2 separate regions of the Homo sapiens genome follow, and region 2 is linked to region 1. The links come from fine-mapping of genetic effects on gene expression. A gene starts in region 1. The other region holds a variant in brackets. All regions are shown on one strand. Distances are from middle to middle.

Region 1 (8,323 bases):
CTACATCCCATCTTTCTCATAAACACGTGTTAGAACCTTCCACTGTTATCATTAATCATTGTCTAATACTTTGAGAATGGGTTTTTCTTCCCAGCAATAATGTCGTATTAGCCATGAGACTATATAGGTATGATTCTAAGCCATCAAGTCTCCTCATGGCCAAACTAGCAGGTTTTTTAAAAAGCTTCCTTAGCTTCCTTTTTTTTTTTTTTTTTTTTTGAGACAGAGTCTCATTCTGTCCCACAGGCTGGAGTGCAGTGGCACGATCTCGGCTCACTGCAACCTCCGCCTCCCACGTTCAAGCAATTCTCCTGCCTCAGCCTCCCGAGTAGCTGGGATTACAGGCACTCGCCACCACGCCCAGCTAACTTTTGCCTTTTTTTTTTTTTTTTTTTTGAGAGGGAGTCTCGCTCTGTCGCTCAGGCTGGAGTGCAGTGGCGTGATCTCGGCTCACTGCAAGCTCCGCCTCCCGGGTTCACGCCATTCTCCTGCTTCAACCTCCCGAGTTGCTGGGACTACAGGTGCCCGCCACCACACCCAGCTAATTTTTTGTATTTTTTAGTAGAGACAGGGTTTCACTGTCAGCCAGTATGGTCTCGATCTCCTGATCTTGTGATCCTCCCGGCTCGGCCTCCCAAAGTGCTGGGATTACAGGCGTGAGCCACTGTGCCCGGCTATATTCTTAATAGAGACAGGGTTTCACCACGTTGGCCAGGCTGGTCTCGAACTCCTGACCTCAGGTGATCCGCCTGCCTCAGCCTCCCAAAGTGCTGGGATTACATGGGTGAGCCACCACGCCCAGCCCTGTATTGGTTTAATCAGTTTCCTTGGAATGTCCTTTGTCTAGGTTAGCTTCCCCTAAAGGTGTTTAAGTTTCGCCACACACAGAATTCTCACTAACAATTCTACAACACAACAAATTTTCTGTACACAATTAACTATTTTCACTACAGAGAGTGACACAGGCACCACACTAACCTCTGGGATAATGGATATGCCAACCAGTTTTAGTAAAATTATGAAAACTAAATTTGTTGAAGGTTTGCAACTGTGCGCCTACGCAAATTGGCTCACAGAAACCCCGTAAGGTAGGCCAGGCGCGGTGGCTCACGCCTGTAATCCCAGCACTTTGGGAGACGCGGGTGGATCACCTGAGGTCAGGAGTTCGAGACCAGCCTGGCCAATGTGGTAAAACCCCGTCTCTATAGAAAATACAAAAAATTAGGCGGGCACGGTGGCGGGCTCCTGTAGTCCCAGCTACTCCGGAGGCTGAGGCAGGAGAATGGCGGGAAGCCGGGAGGCAGCGCTTGCAGTGAACCGAGATCCCGCCATTTGCACTCCAGCCTGGGCTACAGAGTGAGACTCTGTCTCGGAAAAAAGAAAAAAAAAATTAGCCGTACGTGGTGGTGCACGCCTGCAATCCCAGCTACTCAGGAGGCTGAGGCAGGAGAATCGCTTGAACTCAGGAGGCAGAGGTTGCAGTGAGCCGAGATCCCGCCATTGCACTCCAGCCTGGGCAACAAGGGCAAAACTCCGTCTCAAAAACAAAAAACAAAAAACAAAAACACCATAAGGTAGAGCCTGCCCTAACTCCATTTGGCATAAAAGGAAAAAACGCTGGGTGCGGTGGCTCACGCCTGTAATCCCAGCACTTTGGGATGCCGAGGCGGGTGGATCACCGGAGGTCAGGAGTTCGAGACCAGCCTGACCAACATGGAGAAACCCCGTCTCTACCAAAAATACAAAATTAACCCCGTCTCTACTAAAAATACAAAATTAGCCGGGCGTGGTGACGCATGCCTGTAATCCCAGCTATTCGGGAAGCTGAGGCAGGAGAATCGCTTGAACCTGGGAGGCGGAGGTTGCGGTGAGCCGAGATCGCGCCATTGCACTCCAGCCTGGGCAACAACAGCAAAACTCCGTCTCAAAAAAAAAAAAAAGAAAAAAAGAAAAGAAAAGAAAAGAAAATAAAAAGAAAAGGAGGCCTGAAAAGGTAAAGCAATCGAGGCATCAGATTCAGAAAATGACTGAGGTTCAATTACAGTGGCAGTGAGAGCTTGAATTTTGGAATCAGACCTATCATCCTGTCTCTACCACCACCCAAAGTCCTTCAAATCTCTTGCTTTCCAGGCCTGGTCAGCTACCCAACTTCTTTTTCCTCCTTACCCCGCCGCAAAATTATTTTTATTTATTTATTTTTTTGACATGGAGTCTCCCTCTGTCGCCCAGGCTTGACTGCAGTGGCGCGATCTCGGCTCCCTGAAACCTCCACCTCCCAGGTTCAAACCGATTCTCGTGCCTCAGCTTCCCCAGTACCTGGGATTACAGGCGCCAGCCACCATGCCCGTCTAATTATTTCTGTACTTACAGTAGTGTCGGAGTTTCGCCCTGTTGGCCAGGCTGGTCTCGAACTCCTGACCTCAGGTGATCCGCCACCTCTGCCTCCCAAAGTGCCGGGATTACAGGCGTGAGTCACCAAGCCCAGCCCCAGCAAAATTCTGATTGCATCAGCTTGATAACTTTTAGCTGGCTGTGGGTGTCTGGATCATGCATCTACCCCCTGAACCAAGGACTATCACTATACCACCCCCCCAACCCCTCCTGCTAGAAGGGCTGGGCCACTGTAGGGATGCTGGATAAACAAGCCAAGCTCTCTGCCTTCCGGGAGTTAAGCGGGGAGTCTAATGTTGCCTGGGTTTGCAGCGGAGTCTGATCTGTACTATAAAGAGGTACAAAGTTCTGAGCGCTGTTTAGGAGCAGCTTTCCATTTGTGTACCGCGCCACATATTACATTTTTACGGATTTCTGCGGAACTCCCGGGGAGGCTTTATATTTTAAGAGAGGAGGTGGTTCTCCCACAAAACGTGGCATCGGTACCTGGTGTCAAGGAGGTTTTTGTTTTCTAGGTAAAAGAAGGGAGAGTTCTAGAAAGGAAAAGAATTTCACATCTGTTTGGGACTGTGGAGATTCTCTAGCCCAACCTCTTAATTTTATGGCCGAGGAAACAAGCTCCAGTGAAGCAACCGGACTTTCCCAAGGTCATAAGCTAGTAAGTGGGAGGGCGGAAACATGTACTCGGGCCCTGGCTCAGGTCAGAGCTTCAGGAATGCTCCCTCCACGCTAGTGTTGATCTGGATGCGTGGGCAACCCGACACCCCGCTCTAGGGCGGCCAAGCCTGCTCAGGCCATCCCTACGACTTGGCAGGTCGCGGTCCCCGGCCCTGCCCTCAGGCGACCTCTGGGTCGCGTGGGAGCAGAAGTGCGGGCTAAGCTCAGCGTCCCTGCCCCGCGACCCTGGGCAGAGTCCCCAGAACAAAAAGACCCGTCCCTCCCTTCCCCTCCCGCCCCGCCACAGCCCCGCACGTGCGGCGCCTCGTGCACCGCCCCGGGCCCCGCCCCCGCCCTCCATTGGCTGTTCCCGCGCCTTCCTCCTCTGCCCCCTCCCCCCGCGACCAGACTCGGCTGCGGCTCCACGTGACCCGCGGGGGGTGGACACGCCGCGCGAGCAGGAGCTCGGATAGGTCGCTTTGGCCGGCCTGGCCGCTCCGAGCTCCGCCCCTCTTCGGTGGCGCGTCGGGAAGGTTGCAAGTCGGGGACAAGAGGGAGAGGCTGCGGTGGTTGGGGAGGGCGGGGGTTATGAAGAGGGCGGTGAAGGGGGAACACTGGTAGGAGGGAAGGGACCGCGCCGAGGAAGGCCCACCACAAAGACTCCAGCAGGCGCCAATCAGGGGACACAGGGGCGGCGGGGCGGGGCCTCCGCGAGGGTCCTCACCTGGCCCCGCACGTGTCTATCTTATCCCGGCTGCCCGACCAATCACGGCCCGAGGATCTGCGCCTGCCCCTCTCGCAGGCTGGACCAATCCAGAGCAACGATCCGGGGAAGCTGGCCTGGCCTCATGAATAATTAATGTGCCAGAGCCGGTCCGCAGGCGGGGTAGCGATGGAAGGAGGCGGGGGCGCCATTGGGCGCCTGCGCAGTAGCTGCCCGTGTCGGCAGCTGCAGCGGGTCGCACGGCTCCGGCCCATCTCGGGGGGCGGGCGGGGGAGGCGAGGTGCGCGAGCCGAGTCCGGGGCACGATGTCCGACGCGGGCGGCGGAAAGAAGCCGCCTGTGGACCCGCAGGCAGGACCCGGTCCGGGGCCGGGGCGCGCAGCTGGGGAAAGGGGCCTGTCGGGGTCCTTCCCCCTGGTCCTGAAGAAGCTGATGGAGAACCCCCCGCGCGAGGCGCGCCTCGGTGAGGGCGGGGGGGTGGTCCGCGCGGGCTGGGGGCGGGGCTTATACAGGGGCGGGGCCTCGTGAGGGCGGGGCCGGGGAGGCAGTGGGTCAGGGAGCAGTGGTCCAGCGGAGGGGGATGGGGCCTGGATGACCAGGAGCCTGGAGGACGAGGCCGGGGGGCTGAGGACAGAGGGTCAGGGGCGGGCTGAGACGGTGGGTCTGGCGGGAGAGGGTGGGGAGAGGTTTTGAGGAGGCGGAAGGGGATCGGGAGCAGTCACTTAAATGACGCTCCAGGGCCCCTCCCCCGGGGCCACCTGCATCGGAGTCACTCGGGATGCCTGTTTAAATTGCTGGTTCCTGCGCCCCACCCAATCTGCGGTCACTGGGACAGGGGTCTTGCATTTTAAGGAGCACCCCACCGCACCCCCATTATTTTCCAAGTACACCAAAGTTTAGGAAGCGCAGGCCTAGGGTAGCGAACTGTCATCGTACGTGGCCTTACCCCTCCCGGAGGGACCTGGCTTCCTCCCTGGGTGTGAGTAGCGCCAGCTACTAGGTCCAACGGGAGCCTTTCTGTTGCGGGGCTTCTGCTGAGCGGGTGGGGGGGGTGTGGGCGAGTAGTGTGAGGCGCCTTGGGAGGGGAGTTTTGGGCCAAGCAGAGAAACGATGAGGGTCAGATGAGTCCACTGAGGCCCTTCGCCTGGTTGGTTGGGGCTGACCCTTAGATTCTGGGGCCACGGCGGCAGGACTGAGCTTCATCTTTTTGCCTAGGCCAGGAACGTCACTGGGGCGTATACGGAAAGCAGGTCTGGCCTTGTTTTTCGCCCTGGGAGATGGGGTGCAGGGAGCAGCAGGAGGGCCGCCTGTGGTGGGGTTGTGGGTGCACTGAGGTATACTTTGAGTGTGAGACCTTTGCATTTCCAAGAGCCATCAGTTATTCAGGGTTTGGGAAAGGGATAGGCCTTCGAGAGTTGTCTGGCCTGGGGAATGGATTTTCCTTTTTAAAATGCCATTTCTCTTCCTTTCCTGGGTGTATGCTGAGGCTCCCATCCCTGTGGCTGTCACTGTTGAGTTATAAATAGCTTCAGCACATCAGGTGAGGCCAGCCTCTCTCCTCCTGCTTTGGGACCTCATGTGCACAAACCCTTTTGTTTGTTTTTGAGACGGTGCTTTGTTCCAAATCTGGGGCTGAGACAAGCTGCAGGGACAGGTGTACACATCTGACAGTTTCTTGTTTGAAATTACCAGGTAATAACCATCCATAACAAGAATTCTACCCGATATTCGTAGAGTGCTCGCAAAGCACGCTGACATCATCTTATTTCATTAACAGTCCTAGAGGGTATTCTCCCCTCTTCCCAGATGAGGAAAATTGAGGCTCAGGGAGGTGAGGGTGCTTCCTCAAGGTCACACAGCTATAACTTTTGACCCTCAGTTTGGTGCTCTTTCTACTGTATCATGCTGGCAGCCACTGTTGCATGACCTGAGTGATGGACTAGTCCTTTATCTCTTACAATTTAAAATTCCACCTTACAAAAACACTGATTTAAAGTATCCTTTATTGCTTAGGCCAGGCAAAACCTGGAACTTATTGTTGCCTGTCTTTCACTATGGCTGCTTTTCTATCTCCTGCCTTCTCCTGCCTCCTTTGATCCCAAATGACCCCACCCGACATGGGTCACAGTCATTTCTGAACAGAGTGAGGAGTCCAGATCTCAAGGGAGGAGAGCAGGAAGGCCATCTGGCCCACCCAGCCCACCAAGGCTTGACTTTCTTACTTCTCAGTTGGTTTTAAACCAAAGCCTGGTATAGAAAGCAGTTGCAGGAATTCAGATTAATTTGTATTAGAAAGCCATGACCAAGTTGTTTGTCAAAACCTCCACCTTCTTAACTCACTGGGTGTGTTCATTTTTATTGGACCAACAAGCTGCTATTTGGTCTGGGAGTCCATGTGTGGCTGGTTTATTTCCAACTTAATCATATTTGATTTCTCCTTTTCACTTATAAATCCAGAGTTCAAAATTGTCTCCCTCAATTTTGAAAACCCATCATGAGCTTGTCATGATTTTATCTCCCACTTCCCTGATTAGCCTCCCTGTCACTTTGATTTCCTTCCAACCTTGTCACATTGCTCTCTTCTCTTTTTTTAATTGCCCTCTCTTGGATATCCACATGTGTAACTTTGTGACTGAGACAATTGGGTAGATCCAGTCCCCACTAATTGATTAGTTTTCCTTTGAATAGGAGCAGTCTTTCTTCTTCAACTCCACCCCTCTCCTTCCTCCCAGAAAACCTGCCTTCAGTCTTTTCTGCTTATTCAGGAATAAAGGTCTCTTGAAATGGTTGCTCTGAAAAGGGTCCTGAAAAGACAGCTCCAGGCCCTTTCTAATAAACCTAACCTGAATCTGTTTGCAAATCCAATATTCTACAGTTAGTATATATATTTTCCCATAGTCCACCGTCTGCCTACCCCTTGTTGGGCCCTTGAGATCTGGAAATAAATCAGTTCATACTTTCAGTGAGCCCACAGTAACAATGATGCCTACAGTGTGCCAGGAACACTGTAAAGACACTTTTTTTTTCTTTCGAGACAGACTTTCGCCCTCGTTGTCCAGGCTGGAGTGTAGTGGTACAGTCTCGTCTCATTACAAACCTCCGCCTCCAAGGTTCAAGCAATTCTCCTGCCTCAGCCTCCCAAGTAGCTGGGATTACAGGCATGCACCACTATTCCTGACTGATTTTTTGTATTTTTAGTAGAGACGGGGTTTCACCATGTTGGTCAGACTGGTCTCAAACTCCTGACCTCAGGTGATTTGCCCGCCTCGGACTCCCAAAGTGCTAGGATACAGGCGTGATCCCACTGCGCATGGCTGTAAAGACACTTTCAAATGTTATCTCTGGCCAGGCCCTGTGGCTTATGCCTGTAATCCCAGCACTTTGGGAGGCCAAGGTGGATGGATCACCTGAGGTCGGGAGTTCAAGACAAGCCTGACCAACATGGAGAAACCCTGTCTCTACTAAAACAAAATTAGCCGGGCATGGTAGCGCATGCCTGTAATCCCAGCTACTTGGGAGGCTGAGGCAGGAGAATCGCTTGAACACGGGAGGCGAAGGTTGTGGTGAGCTGAGACCGCGCCATTGCACTCCAGTCTGGGCAACAAGAGCGAAACTCCTTCTCATAAAAAAAAAAAAGTTATTTCTAATCTTCACCAAAGAAACATCTTTATCCTTATGTACAGTGGAGGATACCAAGGCTCAGAGAGGTTAAGTAACATGGCTAAGGTCACACATCAAACAGCAAGTGGCAAAAATGGGACTCCTCCCTGGGCTGGGTTGCTGTGGAGAAGCATAACTGGAGGGAACAGGACAGGGGAACACAGAAGTTCTTGGCCTGAAGATCTCAGCCCTTTCTAAGCTAAGGTATCAGGAAAGGTCAGAGACTCCATTTCCCTCCTTGTAGTCTCTCTCCTGCAGATGCTAATCCTACAGCCTATTCTGTTTTTGTTTTTGTTTTTTTGTGACGGAGTTTCACTCTTTGTGGCCCAGACTTGGGGTACAGTGGCATGATCTTGGCTCACTGCAACCTCTGCCTGTCAGGTTCAAGTGATTCTCCTGTCTCAGCCTCCTGAGTAGCTGGGATTACAGGCGCCCACCACCACACCCAACTAATTTTTGTATTTTTAGTAAAGACAGGGTTTCACCATGTTGGCCAGGCTGGTCTCAAACTCCTGACCTCAGGTGATCCACCCGCCTCAGCCTCCCAAAGTGCTGGGATTACAGGTGTGAGCCACCGCCCCCGGTACCTGGCTAATTTTTGTATTTTTAGGAGAGACAGGGTTTCATCATGTTGGCCTGGCTGGTCTCAAACTCCTGACCTCGGGATCCACTCGCCTGGGCCTCTCAAAGTACTGGGATTGCAATCCTGACCCCCCCGCACCTGGCCAGTGCTACAGGCTATTCTGAATTAACCCTGTGGCCAGGTGCAGTGGCTCACGCCTGTAATCCCATCACTTTGGGAGGCCAAGGCAGGTGGATCACCTGAGGTCAGAAGTTCGAAACCAGTCTGGCCAACATGTTGAAACCCCAGTCTCTACTAAATACAAAAAAA
Region 2 (8,323 bases), 46 kb before region 1:
AGTTTATCCATTATGAGAGGTTTGGATTCACTCTCTCCGGGTATAAATGACCTCAGGCAGTGGGTCCAGGGGCCTCCGCCTCCCTAGGAGGTACCTCCCGTGTCCACGGGGGCAGGATGTGGGGACAGGCCATGGCTGCTGTTGGCAGGGAGTGGTCATTGCCGGGGAGCCGCCGGGGGCAGCCTCACTCTTGAACCCTGGCCAGGACACAGTCTGGGCAGCCTGGTCCCACACGCCTTCCTTCTGCCTCCTGCCCCACATTTCCTGCTGTGTTGCCTTTTTTCTCACCAGCCTTTCTGCAGGTTCAGGCCCCTGGGCCTCAAATGTCTTCCTCTTCCCCACCCTGCCTTTCTCTGTCTTTTCGCTTTTCAAAGCCCAGCTCAAGGGCATGCCCCTGCCGAAACCCATCCTGCTCTCCCTGGCTCAGTGACTCTGCTTGGGAGGGGCAGCCGAGACTGAGGACTCTGACAAGGAAGAGCCCAACTGGGCCCTGCAGCCTTGGGCAGGTCCTTCAGTTTCTGCATTCTGAAATGCGGACCATCCCTCAACGGGAACAAGGGAGGAAAGTGCTTGATAACCTGGCACACACGACCCAGCAGGAAATGCAGTGGGCAGTCACTGTGGATAGCTGCTGTGCTGTCCTGAGTTGGGGACTCCTCCCAAGGGCCAAGACACTTGTGCACCCCAGTCAGGCCTGGCTCATCCCAGGGGGGTGAGGCAGGGCCTGGCACACGACTGAGACCCCTGCCCGCTGCTCAGGTAGACTTTGAGGCTTTCTGGAAAGTGAGAGATGGGCTATAAGAGCACTGATGGAGCCTGGGGTCCTGCCACCTTGTACATTAAGGGAAACTGAGGCACAGAGTGGGGAGGGGACGGGGCCAGTGTCACACAGCGAGGCAGCAGCAGGCCTCCCTCCTCCAGAGCTTTGCAGCACTTTCTTTCATTCATTCCATAAGGAGGCCCACAAAACACTCTCGGCCCTGGGCCTGAGAGAGCTGCGTCCTTGCCCTCAGGGACCTCCCAGCCTGCAAAGTAGGCAGTTGATGATCTGCCTTTGTAGCACTCATGGTTTATAATCAGAAATTATAGGTCAGGCATGGTGGCTCATGCCTGTAATCCCAGCAATTTGGGAGGCCGAGGTGGGTGATCACTTAATTTCGGGAGTTAAAGACCAGCCTGGCCAACATAATGAAACCCCATCCCTGCCAAAAATACAAAAATTAGCCGGGCATGGTGGCATGTGCCTGTAGTTCCAGCTACTTGGGAGGCTGAGGCAGGAGAATCACTTGAACCCAGGAGGCACAGTTTGCAGTGAGCCGAGATCGCGCCATTACACTCCAGCCTGAGAGACAGAATGAGACTCCATCTGAAAAATAAAAGAAATTATTAGGCCTGGCACATACCAGGTGCTCCAACGAGAAAACATTAAATGAATGAAAGGTGATTTGTCTAAGTTTACCCAGTATGGGCCAAGCACTGAGCTTGGGGTTGGGTATGTGATAAACAAAACAAATCTGTTTCCTGCCCTCAAAGAGCTCACAGTCTAGGATGGACATTAGGACATTAGGCAGATCATTTCTGGTTTCAAACTGTGATGAGGGCTGTGAAGGCAGAGTATGGGGAGACCTGGGCCATTGAGACTGGGAGCCCTGATTTAGACAGGATTCAGTGACATTTAAGCTGAGACCGGAAGGTTGAAGAGTTAGGGGCAGGGTGTGCAGGTGAAACAGCATTCCAGACCAGGTGGAAGGTATGTGCAAAGGCCCTGAGGCCTGGAGGAGCTCAGAGTGTGGGAGGAACCAACACCAAGGCAGAGCTGGGGGTCCTGGAACAGGAGATAGAAGCCAGACCGCTTGACCCCTGATAAGAAGCTCAGTCTTAGCATTGGGAAGGCATTGAGGGGAGGCAGCATTAATTCTATTCATTTATTCGGAAGGTATTTATTGAGCACTGCTTTGTACCCAGTGTCAGTTCAGACACTGGGAATAGAGCACCAAGGTAGCGTCTCATCACAGCAAGTGGAGCTGGGCTGGGCAGGCACAGCAGATGCTCAAAAAATATTTGTTGAATGATTGAATGACTGCGGCCAGGGGGCCACAGCAAATATGGGCTGAATGCCCAGCTCTCCAGGGCCAAGGCCGCAAAGCCTTGCTTAGTCTGCAGCCAGATGACCACAGATGGTGCCATACCTGGCACCAGGCCCCCCCCAGTCCCTGCCAGGCTGTTCACCCATCCCTGCAATCTTGCTGGGCTCCTCCTGCACATTCATAGAGGTCAGGAGGGCATGGTTAGGGAGGGCTCTAAGAAGCCCACAGTGGAGAGGACCAGTTCAGACCCTGCCTCATGAACTCAGTTTGCCCAACATGGTACAGCACACATGTGAGCACACACATGTGCACATGCACAAACGGAGTGCCCTAGGACACATGAGGGCAGGGTGGTGTCCCAGCCAGAGCCCCTGGCCTTCCGTGAGTTGTGCACAGACACAAGTAAATGCAGGCTGCAGGGGTCCCTGTAGGTTCTCCACCATGAGCACCATATTCATTCAGCCGGCTGGTCATTTCACATGTGCACCTGGAAGTGGGGATGGACCAGGCTGTGCCCACAGGGAGCTTCTTATGACCTAGGAGCCAGGCAGAGGCCCTGCAAGACAGTGTCTGTGCAAGAGCTGTCCCTGGCATCGTGGGGAACAAGATGCAAGGAGGGCTGTGAGTTCCAGGAACAGAGAGCCCAAGGCAGCCTTGGTTGGAAAGGGCTTCAGCGAGCCAGGGAAGCAAGACTAAGAGGAAGGGAGAGCTGGAGAGGGGGAAATGGCACTCATGACCAGGAGCACAGCCTGCACAAAGGCTAAGCAGCAAAAGAGACAGACACCCCAGATCACAAGACCAGTTCCTCCTATGGGGCTCGGAATAGCCTGGGCTCTGCAGTGGAACGTGCTTTGGATCAGATCCTGAGCACGCTCCTTATCTACGCAGGCCACTCCACCCCTCAGAGCCTTGGCTTCCTTCTCTTTTGCAGGGGTCCGGTACCTGCCATTTTGTGGGGGTTATAGAATTACAATGGGTCAATGTGAAAGCTCCCAGCAGGGCGTCTGCAGAAGAGATAGAGCTCCATAGACCTTTGTTGCCAAACAGATGTCACCAGAAGGAGTGCCATGCAGAAGGGCAGGAACAGTGAGCCTGGCAGGCTGGGGTGATGGCATGGGCAGGAGGGCTGAGAAGGTGACTTTGTCCTGCGTGGCCTGGGAGCCATGGGCAGGATCTAGCAGGGAGAATCACCGCTTTCCCTAGAGATGTTCATCTGGTACCTCTCTTTCCCTCAAAGACTTTATGTACTTACCATGAGGATAGCAGCTCTGTGATCCAGCGTGGCGGCCTTGGTTTGGCAGCCAATCTATGGTGGGCAGACACTCCGGAGACTGAAGTGCACACATTTGCCATGTGCTCTATGGCAGGCTCAGGTGTGGGAAGGAGGTGCAGGGTGTTGGTGCAGGTATGGATGGGGGAGTGTACAGTTCCAGGGGACAGAGTCAGGACAGGCTCTTGGGTCAGACAGCCCTGCTCTGATCTGTGCATAGCAGCTTTCTGGGCTGACATTTCCATGCCGTGGGATGATACCTCGCAGGGCGCCTGGACCGAGGGCTAAACCCCACAGTGGGTGTGAGATGCTGGCCTGGGCTGGCGTGAGGCAGGATGCTGGATGAGTCTAGCTGCTGGTCCTGTGGCTGCTGGTCCTGGGAAAGGAAGGCTAGTGGTGGAGTCTGGTCCTCCATCCGGCTCTCCGTGGGGACACAGAAAGGGTGGGGCCACCCAGGGCCTCACCAGGGAAGCAGGACTTGAGCTGGACTGTGAAGGACTCAGAGAAAAAGGGGAGGGTGTTCAGGACAGGGAAGGATGCACCACAGCCTGGAGGTTGGAGTGTGGGAACTGTTGAACGAAACAGCAGCTCTCCCAGCCCAACTTCCAGAAACTGTGCATCTAATCAACACAGGCCGGGCACGGTGGCTCACGCCAGTAATCCCAGCACATTGGGAGGCCAAGGCGGGTGGATCATTTGAAGTCAGGAGTTTGAGATCAACCTGGCTAACATGGTGAAACCCCATCTCTACTAAAAAATTCAAAAATTAGCTGGGCGCGGTGGCTCACACCTATAATCCCAGCACTCTGGGAGGCCGAGGCGGGTGGATCACGAGGTCAGGATATCGAGACCATCCTGGCTAACACGGTGAAACCCCATCTCTACTAAAAATACAAAAAATTAGCCAGGCGTGGTGGCGGGTGCCTGTAGTCCCAGCTAGTCTGGAGGCTGAGGCAGGAGAATGGCATGAACCCAGGAGGCGGAGCTTACAGTGAGCTGAGATCGTGCCACTGCACTCCAGCCTGGGCTACAGAGTGAGACTCCATCTCAAAGAAAAAAAATATATATATATATTCAAAAATTAGCTGGGCATGGTGGCATGCTTCTGTAATCCCAGCTACTCAGGAGGCCGAGATTAGAGAATCACTTGAATGTGGGAGTCGGAGGTTGTAGTGAGCTGAGATCACACCATTGCACTGCAGCCTGGGTGACCAAACGAGACTCCATCTCAAAAAAAAAAAGTTGGGTGTGGTGGCTCAGGCCTGTAATCCCAGCACTTTGGGCGGTTGAGGGAGGTGGATCACCTAAGGTCCGGAATTCAAGACCAGCCTGACCAACATGGAGAAACCCCATCTCTACTAAAAATACAAAAATTAGCCAGGCATGGTGGCGCATGCCTGTAATCCCAGCTACTTGGGAGGCTGAGGCAGGAGAATCGCTTGAACCTGGGAGGCAGAGGTTTCGGTAAGCCAAGATCGCACCATTGCACTCCAGCCTGGGCAACAAGAGCAAATCTCCATCTCAAAAAAGAATAAATAAAAATACAAAATAAAAATACAAAAAAGTTAGTCAGGCGTGGTGACGGGTGCCTGTAATTCCAGCTACTCGGGAGGCTGAGGCAGGAGAATTGCTTGAACCCGGGAG[G/A]TAGAGGTTGCAGTGAGCCAAGATCATGCCACTGCACTCCAGCTTAGGGAACAGAGTGAGACTCTGTCTCAAAAAAAAAAAACAAACCCAAAACACAAAGCACTTCCTGTGTGCCAGGCCCCGTTCTAAGCACTTCACACATAGCAAGTCATTTCATCCTGATAGCCTTCCCCAGCGGTGAGTGAAGCAGGCCCAGAGTGGATGGGGAACTTTGCCCAGGTTGTACAGCCTGCTCAGGCCCAGCTTTCCTCCAGCAGGAAGGCAGTGGGATCCCACCTGGGTTTATGCCCTTCTCTGCTTCCTGGGGGGCCTGGGGCTACCGTGGGAGAGGAGAGCCTGGGGACTCAGGGAGGGGGCACTTTTGTCTTTGAACTGCAGGCCATCTGTGGTGCTGTGGGGGGAGGCTTGCTAAGACCCTTGCCACCTTCACCGGGGTGAGGACCCTGCCCTGTGGTGGGTGGAACCAAGACTCAGAGGTTCTCTCCCTGCCCTCAACCACCCCTCCCTAGAGGGACAGCTGTGGGGATCCACTGAGCCCATGCCCCCACCTGCTGGCCCATCCAGCCCCTTGCTGGGCACCACAGGGGTGAGGACCCAGCACGTGTGAGGGCTTTTTTTTTTTTTTTTTGAGGTAGAGTCTCGCTCTGTTGCCCAGGCTGGAGTATAGTGGCATGATCTCGGCTCACTGCAACATCCACCTCCTGGGTTCAAACCATTCTCCTGCCTCAGCCTCCCAAGTAGCTGGGGTTACAGGCTCCTGCCACCATGCCCGACTAATTTTTGTATTTTTAGTAGAGATGAGGTTTCACCATGTTGGCCATGCTGGTCTTGAATTTCTGACCTCAGGTGATCCACCCACCTCAGCCTCCCCAAGTGCTGGGATTATAGGCATAAGCCACCACGCCTGGCCGCATGTGAGGGCTTTAATCTCCCCTGGCACTCTAAGTGCTCCTCGGTGCTGGGTCAACAGCATAGTCACGTGGGGAGGGGCTGGTGCTGGGTGCTGGGATCGGGGCCTTCCCAGCCACAGCGCCACTGTGGCCCTCTCCCCACAGGGAACTTCTAATGGATTGGGGTCCATAGATGACATCGAAACAGGTAATGTCCCCGATACGAGGGAACAAGTGGAAATTGGGGCCCCGAGAGGTCAGGGGAGTCGAGCCCCCTCCCCATCCCAGCCCTGTAGATGGGAGGGCCTCCGAGGGGTTCCCCACCCTGGTACTCCCTGAGGCATGGGAGAAAACAGTGGGTTGAGAGCTACAGACCCACTCAAGGAGGGGAGGGCATCTCTAGTCTGGCAGAGAGGGGTGCTGCCTCTTAGCTAGGTGCAACAGTCCCATGGCCTTCACTCCTGGCTGCCTGCACACCCCCACCTCTTCCAAAGCCCTTTCCCCTCCTCTTCCTCATTGGCTTCCAGAAAAGGTTGCCTTTTAAGAGTGTCCCCTGGAGAGGGCATTGCTTACCCCAGAAGAAGGAGGCAGCAGTGGTGGACATTTAGGCATTGAGCCTGGGCCAAGGATTGACATCATAGGACTGAGGGCCCCTCCCTGCTCTGGGGCTGTGGCCTTCCTTGACCACCCCCTGAGCATCTGCCAGTGGGATCAGCCGATGGGGAAGGCAGGGCTCCTGGCAAGAGCTGAAAGAAGAAGGGAAAGTGTTGGATGAGCATCACGGGGCCCGGGACGCCTCCTCCACCCTCACCAAGCAGTGCTCCCCTTCGGCTCTTGCCCACCCCATCCGCAGACTGCTACGTGGACCCTCGAGGCTCCCCAGCCCTTCTCCCCTCCACGCCCACGATGCCCCTGTTCCCTCACGTTCTGGACCTGCTGGCCCCCCTGGACAGCAGCAGGACCCTCCCCAGCACCGACAGCCTGGATGACTTCTCAGACGGGGATGTCTTTGGCCCAGAGCTGGACACCCTCCTGGACTCGCTGGTGAGCCACACCACCCTCCTTGTGCTCCCCTGATCCCCTCTCCCCGCTGTGTCCCCATTGTCCCAGGGGTGGAGGGAAGGCCCCAATGCTCATGTCATGTGTCTCAGGAGGAGGCCTCAGTAGGGACTTGTTTGGTACAGAAATGAAGCTGCACACTGGGCACGGTGGCTCACGCCTGTAATCCCAATACTTTGGGAGGCCAAGGCAGCGGATTACTTGAGGTCAGGAATTCGAGACCAGCCTGGCCAACGTGGTGAAACCCCCTCTCTACTAAAAATACAAAAATTAGCCGGGCATGGTGGCACATGCCTGTGGTCTCAGCTCCTCAGGAGGCTGAGGCCGGAGAATCGCTTGAACCCGGGAGGCGGAGGTTGCAGTGAGCCGAGATCACACCACTGCACTCCAGCCTGGGCAGTGGAGCAAGACTCCGTCTCAAAAAAAAAAAAAGAAATGAAGCTGCACAATGTCTGGCCAGAAGGGACCATAGTGAGCCCTGCTCCCACATGGGACAGGATGAAGCCAGGCGACAGGGTGCAGGTCTCCTTGCTTCCCCAAGTCCTGATGCTGCCCAGGCCTGGGCAGTCCTGTTTTCCTCTGACCCCTCCCTCTGTCCCTGCCTCATAGTCTCTGGTCCAGGGTGGCCTGTCTGGCAGCGGCGTGCCTAGTGAGTTGCCCCAGCTGATACCCGTGTTCCCCGGCGGGACCCCACTGCTACCACCTGTGGTGGGTGGCTCCATCCCTGTCTCCAGCCCACTGCCCCCCGCCTCCTTCGGCTTGGTCATGGACCCCTCCAAGAAGCTGGCCGCCTCTGTGCTGGATGCCCTCGATCCCCCGGGCCCCACGCTGGACCCCCTGGACCTGCTGCCGTACTCGGAGACCCGGCTGGATGCACTCGACAGCTTTGGGTCGACACGAGGCTCCCTGGACAAACCTGACTCCTTCATGGGTAAGGCCATGGGTGGGCCCGTTCAACCTCCCTGGACAGGTTGCACAGTGCTGTGGCCTCTTTGGTGCCTGGAGAGTGGAGTTGAGTTACAGATCTGTTTGTCCCCATCACTCCTTAGCAATCCCAGGCCATGTCTGTGTGTTGCCGTCTCTGCAGTGCTCAGCACAGTGTGGGGCTGGGCCTGAGGGGTGGGTGTCTTGTTCAAGATCAAGCAGAGGAGAGCTGCGACAGTCCAGGCCTCTAGACTCCCAGTCTGGTGCTCCCTGCCCAGCCTCCCGGGACCCTGGGTCACCAGGCTGGTGAGATCCCATGGGATGATCCTGAGGCTGGGGGCGGAGCACAAGGTCATGGCCTCCCACTGCACCACTCTGGGCTGGGTGCCAGGGACCCAGGGAGGAAGCCGTCTTGTCTGGGCGCTGGTGGGGCTAGCTTTCGGCAGTCG

What was found.
Region 2: its variant is fine-mapped to the expression of TEF in whole blood (TOPMed, PIP 0.96).

Annotation. Positions count from the first base shown.
Region 1 is chr22:41,377,968-41,386,290 of GRCh38, forward strand. It overlaps TEF (TEF transcription factor, PAR bZIP family member), which reads left to right and starts at 3,975. Exons shown (of 4, transcript NM_003216.4): 1 at 3,975-4,234. The coding sequence starts at 4,078. LOC105373042 (a long non-coding RNA gene) reads right to left here and starts at 3,944. Exons shown (of 3, transcript XR_938271.3): 1 at 3,773-3,944. RefSeq lists silencers at 3,194-3,793, 3,824-4,523 and enhancers at 3,658-3,952, 4,734-4,813.
Region 2 is chr22:41,332,257-41,340,579 of GRCh38, forward strand. ZC3H7B (zinc finger CCCH-type containing 7B) reads left to right here. Exons shown (of 23, transcript NM_017590.6): 8 at 6,057-6,099; 9 at 6,745-6,935; 10 at 7,560-7,881. Among named protein-coding and RNA genes, the nearest start is that of ZC3H7B, 35 kb to the left of the region's middle. The variant G/A (reference allele first, on the strand shown) is at 5,002.